7 linked regions of the Homo sapiens genome follow. The protein of the gene in region 1 purifies or fractionates together with the protein of each later gene. This does not show direct contact. Each region holds a gene or a part of one and is shown on either strand. Other genes may lie near its edges. The genes, in order: ENTREP3, ACP2, ANKRD13A, HERC3, NEDD4, ITCH and NEDD4L.

Evidence for each region.
Region 2: the proteins of ENTREP3 (region 1) and ACP2 purify together in Homo sapiens (affinity purification with mass spectrometry; 2 studies listed by BioGRID and IntAct, with this or other methods). This does not show direct contact.
Region 3: the proteins of ENTREP3 (region 1) and ANKRD13A purify together in Homo sapiens (affinity purification with mass spectrometry; 4 studies listed by BioGRID and IntAct, with this or other methods). This does not show direct contact.
Region 4: the proteins of ENTREP3 (region 1) and HERC3 purify together in Homo sapiens (affinity purification with mass spectrometry; 2 studies listed by BioGRID and IntAct, with this or other methods). This does not show direct contact.
Region 5: the proteins of ENTREP3 (region 1) and NEDD4 purify together in Homo sapiens (affinity purification with mass spectrometry; 4 studies listed by BioGRID and IntAct, with this or other methods). This does not show direct contact.
Region 6: the proteins of ENTREP3 (region 1) and ITCH purify together in Homo sapiens (affinity purification with mass spectrometry; 4 studies listed by BioGRID and IntAct, with this or other methods). This does not show direct contact.
Region 7: the proteins of ENTREP3 (region 1) and NEDD4L purify together in Homo sapiens (affinity purification with mass spectrometry; 4 studies listed by BioGRID and IntAct, with this or other methods). This does not show direct contact.

Annotation. Positions count from the first base shown.
Region 1 is NC_000001.11:155,246,705-155,249,594, reverse strand, and holds the end of ENTREP3 (protein ENTREP3), read left to right. Parts: intron 1-1,121; coding exon 1,122-1,190; intron 1,191-1,291; coding exon 1,292-1,545; intron 1,546-1,639; coding exon 1,640-1,813; 3' UTR 1,814-2,390; downstream 2,391-2,890.
Region 2 is NC_000011.10:47,238,815-47,242,314, forward strand, and holds the end of ACP2 (lysosomal acid phosphatase isoform 1 precursor), read right to left. Parts: intron 1,436-3,500; coding exon 1,302-1,435; coding exon of another isoform or gene 1,269-1,301; 3' UTR 488-1,268; downstream 1-487. Other genes in the region: DDB2 (DNA damage-binding protein 2), read left to right, coding at 1-35.
Region 3 is NC_000012.12:110,026,930-110,030,429, forward strand, and holds part of ANKRD13A (ankyrin repeat domain-containing protein 13A), read left to right. Parts: intron 1-775; coding exon 776-837; intron 838-1,579; coding exon of another isoform or gene 1,580-1,582; coding exon 1,583-1,713; intron 1,714-2,548; coding exon 2,549-2,706; intron 2,707-3,500. UniProt on the Homo sapiens protein: Ubiquitin-binding protein that specifically recognizes and binds 'Lys-63'-linked ubiquitin. Does not bind 'Lys-48'-linked ubiquitin.
Region 4 is NC_000004.12:88,651,480-88,654,979, reverse strand, and holds part of HERC3 (probable E3 ubiquitin-protein ligase HERC3), read right to left. Parts: intron 2,969-3,500; coding exon 2,892-2,968; intron 2,112-2,891; coding exon 1,890-2,111; intron 939-1,889; coding exon 847-938; intron 1-846. UniProt on the Homo sapiens protein: E3 ubiquitin-protein ligase which accepts ubiquitin from an E2 ubiquitin-conjugating enzyme in the form of a thioester and then directly transfers the ubiquitin to targeted substrates.
Region 5 is NC_000015.10:55,840,113-55,843,612, reverse strand, and holds part of NEDD4 (E3 ubiquitin-protein ligase NEDD4), read left to right. Parts: intron 1-1,449; coding exon 1,450-1,679; intron 1,680-2,885; coding exon 2,886-3,007; intron 3,008-3,095; coding exon 3,096-3,166; intron 3,167-3,500. UniProt on the Homo sapiens protein: E3 ubiquitin-protein ligase which accepts ubiquitin from an E2 ubiquitin-conjugating enzyme in the form of a thioester and then directly transfers the ubiquitin to targeted substrates. Specifically ubiquitinates 'Lys-63' in target proteins.
Region 6 is NC_000020.11:34,439,773-34,443,272, forward strand, and holds part of ITCH (E3 ubiquitin-protein ligase Itchy homolog), read left to right. Parts: intron 1-382; coding exon 383-572; intron 573-2,435; coding exon 2,436-2,531; intron 2,532-3,500. UniProt on the Homo sapiens protein: Acts as an Acts as an E3 ubiquitin-protein ligase which accepts ubiquitin from an E2 ubiquitin-conjugating enzyme in the form of a thioester and then directly transfers the ubiquitin to targeted substrates.
Region 7 is NC_000018.10:58,327,226-58,330,725, forward strand, and holds part of NEDD4L (E3 ubiquitin-protein ligase NEDD4-like), read left to right. Parts: intron 1-1,769; coding exon 1,770-1,902; intron 1,903-3,500. UniProt on the Homo sapiens protein: E3 ubiquitin-protein ligase that mediates the polyubiquitination of lysine and cysteine residues on target proteins and is thereby implicated in the regulation of various signaling pathways including autophagy, innate immunity or DNA repair.

The sequences.
Region 1 (2,890 bases):
TTTTGTATTTTTTAGTAGAGACAGGGTTTCACCCTTTTGGCCAGGCTGGTCTTGAACTCCTGACCTCAAGTGATCCACCCGCCTCGGCCTCCCAAAAGGATTTATTTTTTGAAACCAGTTCCACAGCTCTCAGCTTGGTCCACTTATCTGTCCTCCCCAAGCTTCAGCTGTCACTTGTTAAACATGTATAATAATAGTACTTCAGGCCGGGCACGGTGGCTTGCACCTGTAATCCCAGCACTGTGGGAAGCTGAGGTGGGTGGATCACCTGAGGTCGGGAGTTCGAGACCAGCCTGGCTAACATGGTGAAACCCTATCTCTACTAAAAATACAAAAATTAGCCAGGTGTGGTGGAGCGCGCCTGTAATTCCAGCTACTAACAGAGAGGCTAAGGCAGGAGAATCGCTTGAACCTGGAAAGCAGGGGTTGCCGTGAGCCAAGATCATGCCACTGCACTCCAGCCTGGGTGACAGAGACACACTCCATCTCAAAAACACAAACAAACAAACAAAAAACATGTATAATAACAGTACTTCAGCCATAGGCATTGTACTCGAAGATGCTGAGAAAGGAGACAGTGGCCGGGCAAGGCTGTTCACACCTATAATCCCAGCACTTTGGGAGGCCAAGGCAGGTGGATCACCTGAGGTCAGGAGTTCAAGACCAGCCTAGCCAACATGGTGAAACCCCCATCTCTACTAAAAATTGAAAAATTAGCTGGGCCTGGTGGTGGACGCCTGTAATCCCAGCTACTAGGGAGGCTGAGGCAGGAGAATCGCTTGAACCTGGGAGGCGGAGGTTGCAGTGAGCTGAGATCGTACCACTGCACTCCGGCCTGGGCAACACAGTGAGACTCCATCTCAAAAAAATAAGAAAGGAGATAGTACTGGGGAACGCTCAGCACTGTGCGCCAGGTGCTGAACAACACCACTGCAGTCCTTGTTGTGGTGGATTGTACCATCTAGTTGCTGGCTAATATGGACAGAGATGCTGGCCCTTTGATTGGGGATGGAGCGTGGGAGCTGTGAAAGCTCCTCTGGGCTTGAGTTCCCACAGGAGGGTGGGCGTGTCCACAGAACACTTCCACTCACTCCCTGTCTCCCTTTCTCTCTTCTCCCCAGCTGACTTCAGGGACCTTTATACCAAAGTGCTTGAGGAAGAAGCTGCTTCTGTTTCCTCTGCAGATACAGGTCAGGCATGTGGTTTGCGCCCCAGGGATGGGGATTGGGCATGGCTGCCCAGCCCCCTCTCCACCCTACAATACCATTCTCTTATCTCTGTCTCTCTGCAGGGCTCTGCTCTGAAGCCTGCCTCTTCCGCCTAGCCCGCTGCCCTTCCCCCAAGTTGCTACGTGCCCGGTCAGCCGAGAAACGGCGCCCTGTGCCCACCTTCCAAAAAGTTCCCCTGCCCTCGGGCCCTGCACCTGCCCACTCCCTGGGGGACCTAAAGGGCAGCTGGCCAGGTCGGGGCCTGGTCACTCGTTTCCTCCAGATATCCAGGAAAGCCCCAGACCCCAGTGGGACTGGAGCTCATGGACATAAGCAGGTAGGAATTCGGGGAGCCAGGAAAGATGTTTGGGAAAGCGTGGAGCTTCAGATTGAGCCTTATTGATGATGCCCTTTCTTGTGTCCCTGTCCAGGTGCCCCGGAGCCTGTGGGGCCGGCCTGGCCGAGAGAGCCTCCACCTTCGCAGCTGCGGAGATCTGAGCTCTAGCTCTTCCCTGCGGCGTCTCCTGTCTGGCCGCAGGCTGGAGCGTGGTACCCGCCCCCACAGCCTCAGCCTCAACGGGGGCAGCCGGGAGACTGGGCTCTGACCTAGGCTTCTTGTCACACTGAACACATCCAGCCACAGGCACCAGCTGGTTGGGACCAGCAGCCCCCAGCATCCTCTTGCACTGGCTGGCACAAAAAGAAACCTGCTGTATACCCCCCAAAGTGTCCCTTTCCCTCCTACCTCTGGGGTCTCTTGCTGCTTGCCTCTGCTGCTCTGGACTGGGAGAGCTTCTGTCCTGTGCTGCATGGGTATTTAGACTGTGGGGGAGATGCCCCTTCTTATAGCACTGGAGGAGGAAAACAAATTCTTGTCCCCCTCAGAATGAGAGTGGCTCTTTCTGATTTGCAAGGGCACTATGGTCAGGGCAAAGGCATGGCCCAGGTGTTTAAGTACAGGGTGACGTGTGCCTATGCAATGGGGTGGTAAGGCAGGCACGAAGAGTCCAAAAAATCTAGGTGGCCTCTCAGCTCTGCCACCTCTAGCTGCATGACCTTGGGCAAGCTATGTAACCCCAATTGCCTGCTCCATTAAAGACTGTGAAGGTAGAATGTTTGTAAAGCTCTTAACAGTATGTAAGCCTTCAATAAATTTCAGTTTTCCCCTTGTTTTCTTGATCATTCTCTGTCACCAGTGAAATTTGTTCTAGTGTCTCTCATATTTAAGAAAACTCTTTCAGGACTGGGTATGGTGGCTCACACCTATAATCCTAGCACTTTGGGAGGCCGAAGCAAGAGGATCGCCTGAGCCTAGGAATTCAAGACCAGCCTGGGCAACATAGTGAGACCCTGTCTCTACAAAAAACAAAAAATTAGCCAGGCATGGTGGGACACGCCTGTAGTCCCAACTACTCAGGTGGCTAAGGTGAGAGGATCACTTGAGCTTGGGAAGTCCAGGCTGCAGTAAGCTGTGATTGAGCCACTGCACTACAGCCTGGGCAACAGAGCAAGACCATGTCTCAAAAAAAAAAAAAAAAGAAAAAAGAAACTTTCAAGACACTCTTTCCAACCACTAATTGTAACTCTGCTCCTCCTTTTCACAGCAATAGGTTTTCTTTTTCTTCCCTCCACTGTTAAACATCCATTCTCTCCTCACCCACCCCCATCAGACTCCTTCCCCT
Region 2 (3,500 bases), on another chromosome or scaffold:
TCTGGAGCCAGGAGGAAGCCAGGACACGGAAGTGAGAGACACTAAAGAAGGTGTGGGCCAGACAAGGCCTTGGAGCCCACACATGGGATCAAGTCCTGCAAGCAGAGGTGGCGATTTGTTAAAGGGCCAAAAGTATCCAAGGTTAGGGTTGGAGCAGGGGTGCTGGGACCTGGGGCACTGTGGGACTGGGACACTTTTATGTTAATGCTCTGGACTTGCCTCCAGAGACTGCTCCAGAGTTGGTGACACAGCTGTCCCAAGGGCCCCTCTGTATCTAGCCTGGAACCAAGGTTATCTTGGAACTAAATGACTTTTCTCCTCTCAGTGGGTGGTAGCAGAGGGATCAAGCAGTTATTTGATTTGTGCTCACTTTTGATATGGCCAATAAAACCATACCGACTGAGCTTCTGCGTGGATCTTCCAGAAGTGACCTGGTCAGAGAGCTTCTTGCGTCTCAGAAATGAAGAAAAAGCACAGGAAACAGCACTATCAGTCCAATAGGAAACAGCACTATTCATTCTCTGGGAGCTGCCCCAGCCCTATTCTGGGCCACAGTCTAGAACTTTCTTTTCCAGCTCACAACCTGCATGTAGCTCAGGTCCCTGGAGACCCCAGCCCAGCTGAGGGAGAGCAGTTTCCTGATTCGTGTGACAAGCAACTCCCTTCCCACCACTCCCTACTCCCTCCCAAGTACAGACAACCTTCCGTCCTGCTCCAGTTGAAGGGGTGACAACGATTCCTGAAGCATTCTGTCTGAGTCTAATGGTGGCTCTAGCCAGACACAGGGAAATGTGGCTGGCTGGCTGTTGGGTGATCCAGTTCCTTGGGAGCCAATGTTTGTACCCCTGGTATTAGCTGTTTTTCCCACTAAAATAAGCACTGAGAGGCAAGACCGTGTCCCTCTGAGCTATTTGCCGAAGACTTCAGGCTGGAGGAAAAAGAACAGGGCTTGATAGAAGTGCAAGGTGGATCCAGCACCAACTCTGCCATTTTCTAATCCTAGGTCCTGAGTGAACACTGACTGCCAGTTTACATCTCAGGTGTGTAGGGAGCGTGGAGGAGGCAAATCCTGTTTGGAGAAAGCCAGTGTCCAACACAGCACTTGGTAAACATCAGGCATGGGAATGCTGAGTGACAGGCACCATGGGCCACGCTGAGCCCCACTCGCTCATCTGGCTGGGGTCATCAGAGGGAGGCCCAACCCAGGATCTCCTGTCCATGGGCTGGGGAGCAGCAACAGTCAGGAGCGAGGGCCCAGCCCACCTCCCCTAGGAGGTGGAGGGAAGGGGGCTGAGTGGTTGTCAGGCGTGGTCCTCCCCATCTGCGACGTGGCGGTAGCCAGGAGGCTGGGCCTGCATCCGGAAGAGGACGGTGAGGAGCAGCACTATGAGGAGGAAGAGGATGGAGCCACATACAGCCAAGGCCACAATCACCTCTGGGCATGGGGGAGGCAAGAGAAAGGTCATGTCAGCGTTCCATCATATGCCAGCTACTGTTCTGACATATAGGAGATACACAGAGGTGGCCAAGACAGAGTCCCTGCTCTCATGGAGTTTACATTCTAGGAGAGGGGATGTAATAAATAAGCAAATGGGCTGGTCACAGTGGCTCACGCCTATAATCCCAACACTTTGGAAGGTTGAGGTGGGCAGATCACCTGAGGTCAGGAGTTGGAGACCAGCCTGGCCATCATGGTGAAAACCCATCTCTACTAAATAAAGTTGGCCGTGCGCAGTGGCTCACACCTGTAATCCCAGCACTTTGGGAGGCCGAGGTGGGTGGATCACCTGAGGTCAAGAGTTTGAGACCAGCCTGGCCAACGTGGTGAAATGCCGTCTCTACTAAAAATACAAAAAATTAGCTGGGCATGGTGGTGTGCACCTGTAATCCCAACTACTCGGGAGGCTGAGGCAGGAGAATTGCTTGAACCTGGGAGACAGAGGTTGCAGTGAGCCGAGATCACGCCACTGCACTCCAGCCTGGGTGACAGGATGAGACACCGTCTCAAAAAAAAAAAAAAAATTAGGAGTGACAGGTCAGTGACGAATGTGATACAGAGAGACAAAGCAAAGTAGGTCAGCAGGGAAGGCATCATTGAGAAAGTGAGAAGTTTAACAGAGACCTGGAGTCAATGAATGACATACAACAATCTGAGAAGAGTATCACAGGGCAGAGGAGACGAAGGGCAAAAGGCCCAGATGTGGGGATAAGCCTGGCACATGCTAGTATCATCAAGAGTCAGTCTCACCAGAGTAGAGTAAGCAAGGGGCATGTAGGAGATGGGGCAGGAGACCAGATGGAGTAGGGCCTAGAAGGCCATGGTGAAGAACTTGGATTTTATTCTATATGTGATGGGAAGCCACTAGAAAATTCTGAGAGGACAGTAGTATGAACTGGTTTACATTTTTTAAAAGTTAACTCAGTCGGCCGCGGTGGCTCATGCCTGTAATCCCAGCAATTTGGGAGACTAAGGCGGGCGGATCACCTGAGGTTGGGAGTTTGAGACCAGCCTGACCAACATGGAGAAACCTCATCTCTACTGAAAATACAAAATCAGCTGGGCATGGTGATGCATGCCTGTAATCCCAGCTACTCGGGAGGCTGAGGCAGGAGAATCACTTACACCCGGGAGGCGGAGGTTGCAGTGAGCCGAGATTGCGCCACTGCACTCCAGCCTGGGCAACAAGAGCAAAACTCCATCTCAAAAAAATAAAAAAAGTTAACTCTGCTGTGTTGAAAGACTGGTAGGGACAAGAATAGAACCAGAAAGAACTAGGAAGCTTTTCATTCGGTCAGGCAAGAGCTGACGGTAGATTGGACTGCGGAGGCAAGAGCACATATTAATATTTGAAAGGTTGAGCTGATCTGGCAGTGGGCTGGATGAGGGGTATGAGAAACGGTATGCAGAATGACCCCAAGGGTTATACTGTGCCACTAGGTGACTCGTGGCATTGACTGAAACAAGGAAGCCTGGAAGAAGAGCAGCTGTGGAAGGAAAAGCATCTGGTTTTAGACATTGCAACTTTGAGATGCCTTACTTAACATGCATGTAGAGATCTCAAGTTGGCAGCTGGATATGAGTCTCTAGCTCAGAGAAGAGGTTGTGAATCTGTGAGTCAGGGCGTAAGGACAGAAGTGGGCATGGAGATGGGCATAAAGTCATGAGGCTGCATGAGATCACTTGGGAGTGTGCACAGATGGGGAAAGCTCCAGGGATGAGTCCTGGGTCATCCGTTCTTTAGTGAGGAAGGGACGCCTGAAAGTCAGAAGCCAAGAAAGTGTTTCAGGAAGGGGTGACCAATTATGTAATGCTGCTGAGAGGTGAGAGAAGCTAAGAATTAGTCACTGGCTTTGGTAGGAGGTGACTGGTCACCAGACAAGTATGGCTTCAGGGTAGTGGAAGGTGACACAAGACTGTCTAATGTGAGTCTAAGAGAACAAGTGGTGAGGAAGCAGAGCCAGATTCTAGGCAGCTCTTTCAAGGATTCCATTCTGAGAGG
Region 3 (3,500 bases), on another chromosome or scaffold:
GAGGTGTTTCCCCATAGTTGGCCTCAGCTGTAATTAAAGCTATTCGTGAGGGCTTGTTTATGTGTTATCAAGAACAATTGTTGAATTCAGCCAAAAAAGGAGATAAGGACATTTGAGAATATTTATCATTGGAATGAGTGATTTAGTCCAAACTATTGTGATGAAAGATTTAGACAGAACTTGGGGTCCAAGCAAAAACATTGCATGTGGTTGCCACATCCCAGCCCCATCCCAGCCCCACCAGTTCTATGGCCTTGTGAAATTACTTCTGCTCTGTGCCTTAGTTCCTCAGCAGTGAAATGCAGGTGATACCCAACCTTCCTTAGAGTTATTGAGAGGATTAGATGAGTTACGACGTGGAAGCCTTTAGAATGGCGCCTGCAGTATGTGGTAAGCATGCAGTAATTGTTCACCAGCACCACCACCACCATTGCCATTACTCCACTTTGACAGATGAGGGAACTGAGGCCCAGAACACATGGGTAGCGAGTGGCCAAGGTGGGGTTGGAATCCAGGTCTGGCTCACTCCAAAATCCAGACTCTTCCCATTATTCTGCTTTAATTCTTACAACTGTTTATCTAGTTTAGAGATCCTCATGAAAAGCACCCTATAAAGGATAAATTAGTTTATGGTTATTGTGAATGATTTGATCAGCCAGTCTGTAATTGCATTTCCTAATGAGGTAGCTTGGACCAGAAACTTTAATGAAGATCTTTTTTTTATAGCCACAAGTGAGATATAATATTAGACTTTAAACTCCCTACCCCTCTGTAGCAGACAGGAACCCGCTGGAATCTTTGCTGGGAACTGTGGAACACCAATTTGGTGCACAAGGGGTAAGTTGAAGCAATGAGCTTTCATTGCAGTTAGATGAAAGGAAACAACTTGTCTGTGTCTGGGATGGCATTTACTGGATCCTGAACAGCCCACTCTATGTAAAGGCCAAAGATACCCCCAAGCTGGAATTTGAGATACTCTTTTGGAAGAGAATTAGATGAGTGACTCTTTGAAAATAAATAAGGATTTTAGAGGAGGGGTAGTGATTATAGAAATCAGGTGCTTTCCCTCTTATCCATTATAAACGAGGGGCCTCTTTATAGAAATGGAACTTAAAAAGGATTCAGGACTTTATATTGCAACAGAGCACCTTAACAAATATTTTCTTACTTGATGCTCACAGTAACTATATGAACTTGGTACAGTGGATGTCCCTGCGGGTCAGAAAAATGAAATTACCTTTCCACTATCAAAGCTAGACAGGGAAACAGCTAGAACTTCAACTCCAAGTCTTCCAAGTCTCATGCACTTTCAGATATTTCTTTCTTTTTTTCTTTGTTATAATCAGGAGATAAAAATGTAAAGGAGAGTAGAGAAATATTTTAAAATGAAGAAATCCATTACACTTCCTGTGTAGTTTGGTGATATCCTCATAGATTTTCTTGTTCCATGCAAAAAAGTTAGTGAATAGAACTTCCCGGTCTTTAGCTGGTTAACACGTCCACCTCAGACACTGAGTGCCACAGGCCTTCACTTGTGAACATCATTTGGCATTTCTGACTCTCCTGAGTTCTGGCTCAGCAGGACCTCACCACGGAATGTGCTACTGCAAACAACCCCACAGCCATCACGCCTGATGAGTACTTCAATGAAGAGTTTGATCTGAAAGACAGGGACATTGGAAGGCCGAAAGAGCTGACGATTAGAACACAGAAGTAAGAGAGGTTCAGCTGCCATTTTCAACCTATGTATGTTTCAGAAATTGTGCTGTTTTATGGTGTTATGTTGGATCATTCCACTGCCCTCCCCACCACCCTTATTTTTTTTTCAGACGGAGTCTCGCTCTGTCGCCTAGGCTGGAGTGCAGTGGCACGAACTCGGCTCACTGCAACCTCTGCCTCCCAGGTTCAAGCGGTTCTCCTGCCTCAGCCTCCTGAGTAGCTGGGACTACAGGCGCGTGCCACCACGCCCAGCTAATTTTTGTATTTTTAGTAGAGATAGGGTTTCACCATATTGGTCAGGCTGGTCTCGAACTCCTGACCTTGTGATCCGCCCGCCTGGGCCTCCCAAACTGCTGGGATTACAGGCATGAGCCACTGCGCCCAGCCTCCTCTGCCCCTTTTTATAAAAAATAATTTTAAAATTACTTTGCCATGAAAGCTAACAGTAGATTGTCCATGTTATTAGCTCCTTTCCAAATAGAATCTAGATTGGATGTAAGAATTCCTTTTTTTTTTTATTGCTAACCAGCTTCAGCTGATCAAATTCAAATGAAACTGTTCCACCCGCTATCATTTCTTCATGCTTGCTGTCAATTAAGGCTTTGATCGTGGCAGGTTGTCATGCAGGTCGCTTGCCTTTATTGCCAGATTTTAGGGTGATGTGAATTCCTTGTGGCCCTAGACATTTGACCTTTAATAGGTCTGAATTAAGAGATGACTGGGCAGAGTGTGGAGTAAAGCTGCTGTTGTCTAGCCTACTGCATAGCAATAATCTCCTTTTCCCATCTGGTGGAGATGACCTCAGTCTTTTCTTGGTTGAATTCTGCAGGTTTAAAGCAATGTTGTGGATGTGTGAAGAGTTTCCCCTCTCTCTGGTGGAGCAGGTCATTCCCATCATTGACCTAATGGCTCGAACGAGTGCTCATTTTGCAAGACTGAGAGATTTCATCAAATTGGAATTCCCACCTGGATTTCCTGTCAAAATAGGTACTGCTAAATAAACTTCAGCAACACTTGGAGGTTCTGCCCATGTTTGTGGGTGGCAGCATGTGGGTGGCAGGATGCTTCAGGGAATTGGAGTGCTTTAGGTCAAAGTAGCTTATAGACATAACAGAGGAGGTCAGAGTTCTCCTGTGGTTTGATTTAAAGAAGTGTTATGATTAGTGGTTCATTTTGTGTATCAAAGTCAAGAGATCTCCAACCATCATTTCTATTTGCAAATGGTGCTGACAGATATAAAAAGGCATAAAAACATGACACAGTCATTGTTTTAATGTCAAACCTTAATTCAGTGAGACTTCAAATTAGATAATTATTTGAGGAAGACAGTTGACACCAAGATCCTTTGATATGTAAATATGATCTACGTCCCAAGCTAGTATGCATAATGCTATATATGTATATATCATACATACTACTCATGAAGAGTATTAATTTTGGATAGTTGTATGTTCATGATACTTGAACCCTGGCTTGATCACTTACTCACTGTGATCTAGGAGAAAATACATAACTCATTTTCTCTTTTTTTTTTTTGAGATGGAGTCTCGCTCTGTTGCCCAGGCTGGAATGAAGTGGCATGATCTTGGCTCACTGCAACCTCTGCCTCCTGGGTTCAAGCGATTTTCCTGCCTCAGCCTCCTAAGTAGCTGGGATTATAGGCATGCATCACCACGCCCAGCTAATTTTTGTATTTTTAGTAGAGATGGGGTTTTATCATGTTGGTTAGGCTGGTCTCGAACTCCTGACCTCAGGTGATCAGCTCGCCTTGGCCTCCCAAA
Region 4 (3,500 bases), on another chromosome or scaffold:
GAACAAAGATAGCAATGCTCAAAGGAATGTGTGCCTTCTGTAAATTTTTAAAATCGTTTGAAAGTACAATGATGTGTTAGGAAGCAAAATTTTAAAAAAGGAGAAACTAGGAGCTAGGCTAAATGAGATGATTTTACATGATCATTCACATGTAAGAAATTAGGTGCTCTACAAATTCCTTGGTAAGTAAGCTGTTTTTTTAACAGCTGTATTTAAATAAATGTTAAGGCATTTTATCAAAGTGAACGTAGAATAATATTTGTTCAATATAAAAATACATTTTCATTCTCTCTAGAATGTATTTAGAAGCAAAAGAAACATGATTATTTTAAAACATTAATTAAATTGCTGTTTCTTTTTTACATATTTAAATGACTTGTTTTAAAGGAACATAGGACATCATTTTATATATATTATATATACATAAAATAACAAATAAAAATAACAAAGTGCTGTCTTTGTTCCATAAAGAACCAAGGAATTTATATATATATAAATATATACATTATATTTATATATATAATCTACATTTTTATATAATCTACATTATATGTGTGTATATATATATAATCTACATTATGTGTGTGTGTGTATATATATATATATATATATATATATATATATATATATGAAAAATCTACAAGATTACCAAAGAGGATAACAGAGACATACAAAAAAGTAGTCTTTTTCTATTCCTTTGGAAAACAACAAACCCACATAAAAGAGAGCATTCAAGTTCAAGCCACAATACTGTAATCACACACCATCACTACACTAACATAATCAAGCAATTCTAATCACCCATCATATCCCCAGCACCAAAGTAAAATACTCTGAGCTCCTTACCTTTGTGAGAACTGCTGTGTGTTCTTCTCCACAACTAATATAGACAACTTTTTGCGTGCGTAAGAGTTTTACATGGCATGGAGATTCTCGATCTAGAATAAATTAAATATCAGAATATCACTACCATTTGCCTTTGAGATGAAATATACACAACTATCTTGGCATGAATTTTGGATTCCTGGATTCCTGACGCATGTTCAGTTTCCTGCCTGCATCTGTACTTGGATATCCAACAGACTTCTCAGTTTTAATTTACCTAAAACCTACCTCATGGTTTCCCTACACTCTCCAACCCTGCCCACTCTCCAGCTCACTTTACTACACACGGTTTTCCCCATTTCAGAAACAGTCATTTTGCCCTTCCAGCTGTTCCTTTATTTCAAACCACACATCCAACAGTGAACAAAACCAACTGGCCTCATCTTCAAAATATGTTTAAAATCTGACTTTACTCCCACAACCTCCAAGCTGGTCTTCCAGCTTCCCCCTTGACCCACTACAGCCAAAGCCAAAGTGGATCACGCTTCTCCTCCAAACCCTCAGGGTCTTCCCCTCTCACTGAGAAAACCAGTTATATCCTCACCCTGCCCCTCAGGGCCCTGCATAACTGGGTCTACACGACTTCTCTGACCTGCAGCTGTGCTACTCTTCCCCTTCTCTCCAACTACATCTCTTCCCACATGAGCACCTTTGCACACCCAGTTCTCTCTGACAGGAACATTTTTCACCCAGACATTTACATGTCCCATCTCCCACCTGATTTCCTACAGGTTCTGCTCAAACATTTTCTTATCAGAGGGGCCCTTCCCCACCACCTTATGTAAAGCAGGAAGCTGCACTCTCAAATCCTGTGTATTTACTGGTTTTGTTGCACCTCTACTCACTAGAATACAGTCTCCACTAAGACGAGGATGTTCTCTATTGTGTTCACTGCTTCTCCCTTAGTATCTCACATGGGGCTAGCACATAGTAGATCCTCAAGAAGCATGTGTTAAATGAATGTGCTTTTAAACTAAATACATACATATGAAGGGTTTACCTACCTTTTTCATCACTGAGCCCTAGCTGCCCGGCATTATTCATCCCCCAGCCAAAAACAGCTCCTGAGAGAGACAGGGCAAAGCTGTGAGCCCCTCCGGCAGCCACCTGAGCCAGTGGGATCCCCTCCAGGGACCTCACCCTCTGTGGGCTGGCTTGGGAGGGGAACTCCTTCCCTAAGCCAAGCTGCCCATGGCTGTTCTTTCCCCAGGTGAAGAACTGGCCATCTGAAATAACAGGATAACTGGTATTACCATAAAATGATACAAGCTCCACACACAAAAATAATCTAGTTATTAGGGTCATTTGCCAGTTGCCCCCCAACACCAAACCCACCCAAGAGCAAAGGAACAGAGATACTTCATGCTATCAGACTGCCAAAACCAAAACTCCCAAGTGATATAACAGAGAGGTAAGCTGAGTCTTACTGCCCTTCAAAGGCTATTAAAATTTATACACAGAAAATATTAAATGTATAAGTAAATTCAATTTCGGACAGGCCAATTACCAGGCTTAAGCAAGATCACACTAGTTCTGACCACACTAAGACTATGAGACCCAAGACTTCGGGAGGTCCAGCAATGACCACTTGGTCTGCTCTGCAGATAATCAAGCAGGACACAGAAGTGCAGATTTATTTAGGTTTCTCCAACTCCTTCTTTTTCATTCATTTGGGAGCTTGATAGTGGAATGTAGCTTGAGAGTTGGCTGTCGCTAAGAAAAATCAATCTCCTCCATGCTCAGAACACCTAGGTATGGTCCTGCCCCCTGCTTATCTTCCCCTGTGAAAGTTGGAGCAGCAATGATGACCACCTACTTCATCACCCACACCCTGAGAAAAGGATGAGCTATGCAAAGCCCATATGAGAATTGTCACTGTCCAACAGCAATGCATAGACCCTAACCAGTTAATTCAAAGTTTTCAGTTAGATAATATCACACAAAAAGACAAAGAGAAATGTTTTCAAAATTAACATAGCATTAGCATATGTTTAATGTTACTTTACCAGCCGCAAGAGCCAAGCAATGCCAGTTGCCACAGGAAACTTGTAATATTGTTTGCTGGTTCAGCTTTTGTATTAACCTAAAACAGAAAAGGCTTTCTTTTTCAGATAGATATTCACACACAAACACAATTATCAGAAATATTCCCAATTAAATAAAATGTCAGTAATAAATAACACCATCTTGCCTAAAAGTCTTTTTAAGGCCAGGCACAGTGGTTCACGCCTGTAATCTCAGCACTTTGGGAGGCCAAGGTGGGCTTATCACCTGAGGTCAGGAGTTCGAGACCAGCCTGGCCAATATGATGAAACCCCATCTCTACTAAAAATACAAAAAAAATCAGCCGGGCGTTGTGGCACATGCCTGTAATCCCAGCTACTCGGGAGGCTGAGGCAGAGAATTGCTTCAACAATTCCCCATCACCATTACTCTTGTCACAATCAGTTGTAGAAAAGAAGCAGGTCAGAAGAACAAAGACAGATAATAGAGAAATTGTACCCTTGAGGTGGGGAAGAGGGAGTCCATACAGTGCAAGCACATACTGTATTTTACCTACTTGTCTCCTTCTATCCTCCCCATAACCCTGTAAGGTACATAGTAAGTAATTTTTA
Region 5 (3,500 bases), on another chromosome or scaffold:
CTTCTTTTTTGGAGGTGACAGAATATTGATGGCATGTTTTCTCTTACTGGTTTCCCCTGGAAATTTGCCCATGAAGTACTGAGGAATAAAATATTTAGATATATCTTTTGTAAAATTTACAATAAGTTCTGCCTAAAGCATAGTTGTGTACATTTGTCACATAAGCAAAGAACGTACAAAAGATTAGTGAGGCAATGTAGCTCCATTAATTAAGAGCACAGACTCAGGAGCTAAGACTTTCTTAAGTCGTCTTCTTCAGTTTTATGTGTAAAATGAAGACAATAATAGTAGCTTTCGCATAGTGTTGTTATGAGGTTAAACACGTTAACCTGCCATTCCAGGGTACCCATGCCTGGCTGTTTTAGTCCGTTTTCATGCTGCTGATAAAGACATACCTGAGACCAGGCAATTTACAAAAGGAAGAGGTTTATTGGACCTACAGTTCTACATGGCTAGGGAGGCCTCACAATCATGGCAGAAGGCAAGGAGGAGCAAGTCACATCTTACATGGATGGCAGCAGGCAAAGAGAGAGCTTGTGCATAGAAACCATTAGATGTCGTGAGACCCATTCACTATCATGAGAACAGTGCAGGAAAGATCCGCCCCCATAATTCAATCACCTCCCACCAGGTTCTTCCCATGACACATGGAGATTGTGGGAGTTACAATTCAAGATTAGATTTGGGTAGGGACACAGCCAGAATATATCACTGGCACAGTCTGTAAATGTCACCATCTGTTAATGAGTGAAGCAAGATAGACTCCAGGGAGGAAAGTAGAGGTAGGGAAAAGCCTGAACAGACAGGCACAACAGCTAGCAGGCAGTGGCTATCCTACAGGTCACAGAACGGTGTTCATTGGAACTTAATATGAAAAGGACTGTTAACGAAATGCCTTCATGGGGGCATTACCATCACCATCAATTGCTTCTTTAGGCCGGGTGCCATGGCTTATGCCTGTAATCTCAGCACTTTGGGAGGCCAAGGCGGGAGGATTGCTAGAGCTTAGGAGTTTGAGACCAGCCTGGGCAAGATGGCAAGACCTCAAAAACTTAAAAAATTAGTCAGGCATGATGGCATGCGCCTGTGGTCCAGTTACTTAGGAATCGGAAGCAAGAGGATCACTTGAGCCCATGAGGTCGAGGCTGCAGTAAGCCATGTTCACGCCACTGCACTCCAGCCTGGACTACAGAGCTGTCTCCAAAAACAAAAGCTTCTTCAGATGTAAAGAAGTCTATATTACTAAGTGATTAAAGAAAATGCAGAAACTGTCTCATACCATAGAGGAAACCAAGACAATATACCTAGTTGTGTTTTCCCTGAGTATATTACGTAAGGAAAAAGAGACTTGGACACAGGGTGTAGAGGGAATGTTATAACTTTATGAGAGATGGGTTTGTTATTATGTTGAACTGATTTAAACAGTACGTCTCTCCTCTGGATTTTCAGAATGACATTCCAAACAAATTTGAAATGAAACTTCGCCGAGCAACTGTTCTTGAAGACTCTTACCGGAGAATTATGGGTGTCAAGAGAGCAGACTTCCTGAAGGCTCGACTGTGGATTGAGTTTGATGGTGAAAAGGGATTGGATTATGGAGGAGTTGCCAGAGAATGGTTCTTCCTGATCTCAAAGGAAATGTTTAACCCTTATTATGGGTTGTTTGAATATTCTGCTACGTAAGTACCTTTACAATGATTATCGGCAGAAAAAGAAAAATCACTGTTTTAAAAGTAAGAGTCGGCCGGGTGCAGTGGCTCATGCCTGTAATCCCAGCACTTTGGGAGGCCGAGGCGGGCGGATCACAAGGTCAGGATATCGAGACCATCCTAGCTAACACGGTGAAACCCCGTCTCTACTAAAAATACAAAAACTTACCCAGGCGTGGTGGCGGGCGCCTGTAGTCCCAGCTACTCAGGAGGCTGAGGCAGGAGAATGGCGTGAACCCGGAAGGCGGAGCCGAGATCACGCCACTGCACTCCAGCCTGGGCAACAGAGCAAGACTCCTCTAAAAAAAAAAGTTACCATTTTAGCCATTTTAAATATACAATTTAGAGTCATTACATACATTCACATTGTTGTGCTGCCATCCCACTATCCAACTCTAGAACTTTTTCATCTTCCCAAAATGAAACCCTATACCCAGTAAGCACTCGCTCCCCATTCCCTGGCAGCCACCATTCTGCTTTCTGTCCCTATGAATTTGACTCCTCGGGTACCTCACATAAGTGGAATCATTCAATATTTGTCTTTTTGTGACCAGCTCATTTCACTTAACATGATGTCTTCAGGGTTCATCCATGTTGTAGTATGTATCAGAATGTCCTTCCTTTTTAAGGCAGAATAATATTCCATTATTTTTGCATATAATGCTTTGTTTAGGCTGGGCGTGGTGGCTCATGCCTGTAATCCCACCACTTTGGGAGGCCAAGGCTGGTGGATCACAATGCCAGGAGTTCAAGACCAGCCTGACCAACATAGTGAAACCCTGTCTCTACTAAAAATACAAAAATTAACCAGGCATGGTGGCGGGCGCCTGTAATTCCAGCTACTTGGGAGGCTGAGACAGGAGAATCACTTGAACCTGGGAGGCGGAGGTTGCAGTGAGCTGTGACCGTGTCATTGCACTCCAGCCTGGGCGAGAGCAAGACTCCATCTCAAAAACAAACGAACAAACAAAACTTTGTTTATACATTCATCTGCCAAAGGACATTTGGGTTATTTCCACTTTTTGACAGAAATTACTATTTTTAAAACCATTAAATCCAGTGGAGGAATGTGGTTCTAACAGTGGTAAACAACTCTTAAAGGAGGAAGATTATTTGTAATTATTTGTCATATTAAAGTTTTTCAAATGAAGTATTTAAATGGGGTTGTCTTTACAGGGACAATTATACCCTACAGATAAATCCAAACTCTGGATTGTGTAACGAAGATCACCTCTCTTACTTCAAGTTTATTGGTCGGGTAGCTGGAATGGCAGTTTATCATGGCAAACTGTTGGATGGTTAGTATTAAGTATAAACTTTTTACAATATAATTACCTGTTTTCTTTCACTTGGTAATCATCCTAAATGTATTTGGTTTTTTGCAAGGTTTTTTCATCCGCCCATTTTACAAGATGATGCTTCACAAACCAATAACCCTTCATGATATGGAATCTGTGGTATGTCTTTTTCACTTATAGTATAGACGAAGTATAATTTAACAAGCAGCTTGAACATTTTGAAGAATTTGCTTTTAATGACATGGAAATTAATATATTATCATGTTTCAAAATACAAATGAACTTTTTCCTCAACATTTTATTATGAAAATTTTCTAACATATAATAAAGTTGGAAGAATTTTACATTGGACAGTTGTATATCAACTACTCACAATTGCTTTTTTTCTAGATTTACTTTATCACATACCTATCTGTCTATCCATCAGTCTGTCTTAGTTTCTTCATGCATTTCAGAGTAAGTTATAGATAACATTAAACATCCCACTAAATAC
Region 6 (3,500 bases), on another chromosome or scaffold:
TCTGTAATCTGCACGGTTTCACAGGAAAGCAGTTTTAAGGAGCTGGAAAATTAATAAATGAACTTAAAATACCAAGGAATATTAATAATTTCCTATTCTAAAAGTTTTTATTTCCAGTGACATCAGAAGATCAGAGAACCTGTACATGCTTCGTGATTAGTAATGGGACATAGGGGTAGACAGGACCGAAAAAGTAAACAAGCCTATTAACTGGCAGCGTTGGTTATTTCCCATTACTTATTTCTTTAAGTAATTTTCACCTGTGCATCTACATCTTAAGTTTTATATTTATCATCTGCCTTTTATTTTTTACAGTTAAAATTCTATCCTGAATTTTAGAAAATGAAAGATTCTTTTCCTATTTTCCCCAAATCTTTTATAGCATCTGTCAATGGTTCACCATCTGCCACTTCTGAAAGTGATGGGTCTAGTACAGGCTCTCTGCCGCCGACAAATACAAATACAAATACATCTGAAGGAGCAACATCTGGATTAATAATTCCTCTTACTATATCTGGAGGCTCAGGCCCTAGGCCATTAAATCCTGTAACTCAAGCTCCCTTGCCACCTGGGTGAGTAACTTTTTAAATTAACATATGTTGTCTTTAGGATTCTTCATAAGCCTACTTATTAATAAGGAAAATAACAGTAAACAACAGTAAACTCCATTGTTTTGATGACTGTTTTTTAATTTCTTTTTTTTTTGAGATGGAGTGCTCTGTCTCCCAGACTGGAGTGCAGTGGTGTGATCTTGGCTCACTGCGACCTCCGCCCCCTGGGTTCAAGTAATTCTCCTGCCTTAGCCTCCCTAGTAGCTAGGATTACAGGTGTGCACTACCAAGCCCGGCTAATTTTTGTATTTTTAGTAGGGGATTTCACCATGTTGGCCAGGCTGGTCTCGAACTCCTGACCTCAAGTGATCCGACCACCTCAACCTCTGAAAGTGCTGGGATTACAGGCATGAGCACCCAGCCAACTGTTTTTATGTTATTGTAACTGATTTTGGGGGATCTGGAGTCAAAATGAACAAGGAAAACACACCATATTTGAAATCTTCAGGGCAAAGTGGAAAAATATATTTTTTCATCAAAGGACCCTGAAAGTTAACCAAGGCCAATTAATAAAATAATCACCTAATTCCAATTGCCTTTTTCTTTAAGGGGGAAAAAATCCCTTTTTAATATCAAACTATTTTTTTCATCAGAAGATCATTATAGGCTGGGCATGGTGGCTCACGCCTGTAATACCAGCATTTTGGGAGGCCGAGGCGGGCTGATCACCTGAGGTCAGGAGTTCGAGACCAGCCTGGCCAACATGCTGAAACCCCATCTCTACTAAAAATACAAAAAATTAGCTGGGTGTGGTGGCAGGCGCCTGTAATCCCAGCTACTCGGGAGGCTGAGGCAGGAGAATTGCTTGAACCTGGGAGGCAGAGGTTGCATTGAGCCAAGATCTTGCCACTGCACTCCAGCCTGGGCAACAAGAGCAAAACTCCATCTTGGGGAAAAAAGAAAAATCATAGCAAAGTGATAGATAATTCAGAAAACTGAGAAAATTTGTGCTCATAATCCCATTTTAATCTCTCCTGATTATTTTAAGATTATTTTCATAGATTGTTTTTAAGATACTCAGGTGTAATTTTTTCTTGTTTATTTTTTGTTTGTTTGTTTGAGATGAAATCTTGCTCTGTTGCCCAAGCTGTAGTGCAGTGGTGGGATCTTAGCTCTCTGTAACCTCCGTCTTCCGGGTTCAAGTGATTCTCTTGCCTTAGCATCCTGAGTAGCTGGGATTACAGGTACCTGCCACCATGCCCAGCTAATTTTTTTTTTTTGAGATGGAGTCTCACTCTATTGTCCAGGCTGGAGTGCAATGATGCAATCTTGGCTTACTGCAACCACTGCCTCCCAGGTTAAAGTGATTCTCCTGCCTCAGCCTCCTGAGTAGTTGGGACTACAGGTGCCCACCATCATGCCCAGCTAATTTTTGAATTTTCAGTAGAAACGGGGTTTCACCATGTTGGCCAGGCTGGTCTTGAACTCCTGACCTCAAGTAATCCACCCGTCTCAGCCTCCCAAAGTGTTGGGATTACAGGTGAGAGCCACTGCGCCTGGCCATTTCTTTCCACTCAAATCCTGATTATACCCTGATTGAGAGTGACTTCGGTATCCTAGGTAGACGGACCTCAAGCCTCTTCAGGAATATGTTTTCTCCTAGAGCAGATACTTGCATAGAAGAAATTGAATTCACTGTGTGCCACTGCCTGAAGATTACATTTCTTCACTTTATTCCTAAATTGTATTTGTATCATCTTTCTAAACTGATGTCCTTATTTGCCTTAGTTCAATAATGGTCATTTAATGGAAATGCAAAGACAGGATTAAAAAGCCAGGTAACTCATGCAAGTATTTTACCAGCCTTTTAATTTTGTATTTAAGTTGGGAGCAGAGAGTGGACCAGCACGGGCGAGTTTACTATGTAGATCATGTTGAGAAAAGAACAACATGGGATAGACCAGAACCTCTACCTCCTGGGTAAGTATCTAAATTTAAAAAGAATAATTTTATTTAGTCAGAATTGTGGATTACAACTGTATAATCTTCCCTACATTTCTGTTTTACTTTTTCTTGTCAGCCCTTTCTCTGTCCACTTTGTTTTGTGGTAAGTACAAATTAAAAAGAAGAGAGCTAGACAACTGATTAATTCAGAGCCTGATAAACAATTTTTGTTTTCACGCATATTTCTTTCTTCTTTTCTTTATTTTATAGAAACAACATCTCGCTATGTCGCCCAGGCTGGTTTTTAACTCCTGAGCTCAAGCCATCCTCCCGCGTTGGCCTCCCAAAGTGCTGGGATTACAGGCGTGAGCTATCATGCCTGGCCCTATTTTCACTCATTTCTGACCTAAAGATTCCTTAGGTGGGCTGGGCGCAGTGGCTCACGCCTGTAATCCCAGCACTTTGGGAGGGCGAGGTGGGAGGATCACGAGCTCAGGAGATTGAGACCATCCTGGCTAACGTGGTGAAACCCCGTTTCTACTAAAAATACAAAAAAAAAAAAGCCAGGCATGGTGGCGGGCACCTATAGTCCCAGCTACTTGGGAGGCTGAGGCAGGAGAATGGCATGAACCCAGGAGGCGGAGCTTGCAGTGAGCCGAGATCTCGCCACTGCACTCCAGCCTGGGCGACAGAGCAAGACTCTGTCTCAAAAAAAAAAAAAAAATTTCCTTAACTTTTCTTGTCTAAGCTGTTTACCTGTTTACTAATACTGTAGTTTAAGTATTAGTTTCTTCAAGAGTAATTATTTAAATGAATAAGAATTAGAGCCCAGTCATATATTAAAATGAAGTTCTTATTATATTTAAAAAACTATAATAGCAAAATCATTTCAAATTAATTGGGGAAGTTAAGGATATATTAATACATGGTGTTAAGCCTTTAACATTAACATTAACATTACAGTCCAGGCACGGTGGCTCGCGCCTGTAATCCCAGCACCTTGGG
Region 7 (3,500 bases), on another chromosome or scaffold:
TAGCTGGGATTACAGGCGCCCGCCGCCATGCCCAGCTAATGTTTGTATTTTTGTGAAGATGGGGTTTCACTGGCTTGGTCAAGCTGGTTTCAAACTCCTGACCTCAGGTGATCCGCCCACCTCAGCCTCCCAAAGTGCTAGGATTACAGGTATGACCCACCACGCCCGGCTGAAAAATGCAGTTCTTAATCCAAGTTCGGGCTCACATGTAGTTTTGGGAGAAGGCAGAGGCATAACTGCCCCATCAAGGAGGCAGCAATGCCAAAGGGAGAGGCTGAGCCAGGAAGGACACAGCAGAACTTGGCAGAACCTGAGGAGCGCCTCCTTCCAATGGGCATAACTTCTAGAAGGCAAGAGGAAAGTTAGTTAAGGAAAAAGAGTTTCCACCACAACCTCTGCTAGCAGGCCCTTTATTGGGATACAGTATAAGTTCATTTCAGAATGTGTGAGAAAACTTTAAAATTTGTGTTTTAGAAAGAGTCTATAATGAGTGTTCTTGATAAGTACTATATTTCAGTTAGTCTGAAATGACGATTTCAACTTTTGAGATACTGACTTGTGACATAATTTTTGTTAATGGGATATGTTATCTTATTGAAAGTATCTGTGAGAGTTTTCCCTGAAAAAATTTTTGGCATTTAAACTTGTACACTAAAAGCCTCTGACTAGTATTTCCCCCAAAGTATGATTGCCTATAATTTACTGCAAAAAAAAAAGTTTTCTTTTTTCTTTTTTTTTTTGTTTTGTTTTGTTTTGAGATGGAGTCTCACTCTGCTGCCCTGGCTAGAGTACAGTGACATGATCTCTCAGCTCACTGCAACCTCTGCCTCCTGGGCTCAAGTGATTCTCCTGCCTCAGCCTCCTGAGTAGCTGGGACTACAGGCACGCATCACCACACTCGGCTAATTTTTGTGTTTTTAGTAGAGGCGGGGTTTTGCCATGTTGGCCAGGTACGTCTTGAGCTCCTGACCTCAAGTGATCCGCCCGCCTTGGCCTCCCAAAGTGCTGGGATTACAGGCATGAGCCACCATGCCCAGCCCAAAAAAGTCTTCCAAATTGAATCAAAACTTTTAGATCCTGAATTGAGAACATCACATGACAAAAAATAGGGTATGATGTTTTGGTGTTCTTCAGACCCCGGCTGACTTGAGAGGTTATCTCCTGATGTTATTAGGATTTTTAAAGTAGGGTAAAGGAGGTAAATGCAGTGTCACGATTTTGAGATTCTGTTAAAATGAGCTAGAAAGCAGCTGAAAAAAATTCATGTTGGATCAGGTGTACTTTCCTCCAGATGACAGCTTTGAATTTGTCCCTTTTGTAGTCTTTGGTCAAATTGCTGGTGACCAGAAGTAGCTGCCTTGTCATTGCTGGACTTCTAGAAGGATTGGGACTGCCCAGCTGCTGTGTGAACTTGCCTGTCACCTCTGCTTCCAGAGGTCTGACTTGTCACTGTGGCAAATGGGCAGAGGACTTTGATTTCTGTTTTTTATTAAACACTGAGGTATATTTTGAAATGTATGCCTGAAAGATGCTCAAAATGGTGTGACTAATGCATTTTAAAACTGCATTTATTTGATTGAAATGAACCTTAACCTATACTTTAGCCGTAATATGGTGGGAGAATTCTCACATTGGATGACCAGCTAGTTGTCAGTGTTTGACGCTGACACTTTAGTGGCCATCTGGCCCTCCGTGAGCATTGAACTGTCATGAAGGGCCCGATCTCAACCACTTCTCTTCTTCTCTTTCCCCCTTTCCTGCATGCTCAGGGACGTGTCCTCGGAGTCGGACAATAACATCAGACAGATCAACCAGGAGGCAGCACACCGGCGCTTCCGCTCCCGCAGGCACATCAGCGAAGACTTGGAGCCCGAGCCCTCGGAGGGCGGGGATGTCCCCGAGGTACGATGTCCCCAGAATGGTGCAAAGCCCGGCAGCTCCTTCTTCCCATGTTCTCCAGCTTGATTTTATATCATAATTTCTTCTGTCAGTAAACATTGTTGAGAATGTAAAGATTACAGTGACGCAGGGAATTAATTACCATCTGAATATTAATTTGAAAGTGCCTATAAAAGCCGTATTTGACAAGTATAGGTGGCTCTATATTATAGAAATGGGAATAACATTATTTTTATTTTTATTTTTTTTGAAGACAGTGTCTTGCTCTGTCGCCCAGGCTAGAGTGCAGTGGTGCAGTCTTGGCTCACTGCAACCTCCGCCTCCTGGGTTCGAGCAATTCTCCTGCCTCAGCCTCCTGAGTAGCTGGGATTACAGGCACGCATCACCACACCCGGCCAGTTTTTGTATTTTTAGTAGAAATGGGGTTTCACCATGTTGGCTAGGATGGTCTCAATCTCCTGACCTCGAGATCCGCCTGCTGCCTCAGCCTCCTAAAGTGCTGGGGTTATAGGTGCATGCCATCACAATGGCTAATTTTTTTTTTTTTTTTTTTTCCTAGTAGAGACGGGTTTCACCATGTTGGCCAGGCTGGTCTTGAACTCTTGACCTCATGATCCACCTGCCTTGGCCTCCCAAAGTGCTTAGATTACAGGCGTGAGCCACTGTGTCCAGCCCACATTATTTTTCAGTATGAAAATCTTAAGATATTTTTAGTTTGTAATTTATTTTTCACAGGGGTCTAACCATGTCTCATTAAATGACAGCTTGTTTTTATCATAGTTGAGCTGTTGAATGAGCCCTGTAACTTGTTTGGGTATCATATGCATATTTTTATTGAGTCGCTTTGACACTTGGAAGAGATTTATTACCATGAAAATATAAATTTAGGTGAACAGAAATGTGTAATTTTCCCTTTAAATAGTTATGGTATGTTACTTAAAACGTTATGAATTAAACAACAAATTAGCCATAATCTTCCATGCTATCTTACCAGCTCTGTTTATGTACTAAAAATCCATTCTTCTTAGACATTGTGTTAGGAAGATCATTTAGAATGCGGCGATTCAACTTGGAAAAGCAAAAGTAATGATTCCATAACACATTCACTCTAAGTTATTTTATACCATTGTTTAATTACAGCGTATAGCTTCTATGCTGCTCCCACGGTGAATCCTCAGTGGTTAAAAGTAAAAGAAAATCCATGACAATTGTTTATAAACTCCAGAGAAGTGTGTGTGTGTGTTTGTTTTTTTGCCCACACATATAGTAACAAGTGCTGGAAATCAGTCACTGTTCAGAGAGGCATTGTTATAAAGTGGTTAAGAGCACAGCCTCTGTCTGGAACCAGGCCTCTTTGATTCACATCATGGCCCTACCACTTGCTAGATGTTACCTTGGGCAGGTTATTTTCTGTGCCTCAGTTTCCTCATCTGTTAATTGGGGGAGTTATCTTCCTCGTGATTATTGTGAAGGTTGTGTGCCTCATGAGAGGCACTTAGTAGGTGTTAATTATAGTTATCACCGGGGCTATTGTTGTTACATGGTTTCATTGGGGAGCTGGGTGGATCCCTACTTCTTTCTAGTGTTTACCCCAGTGTCTC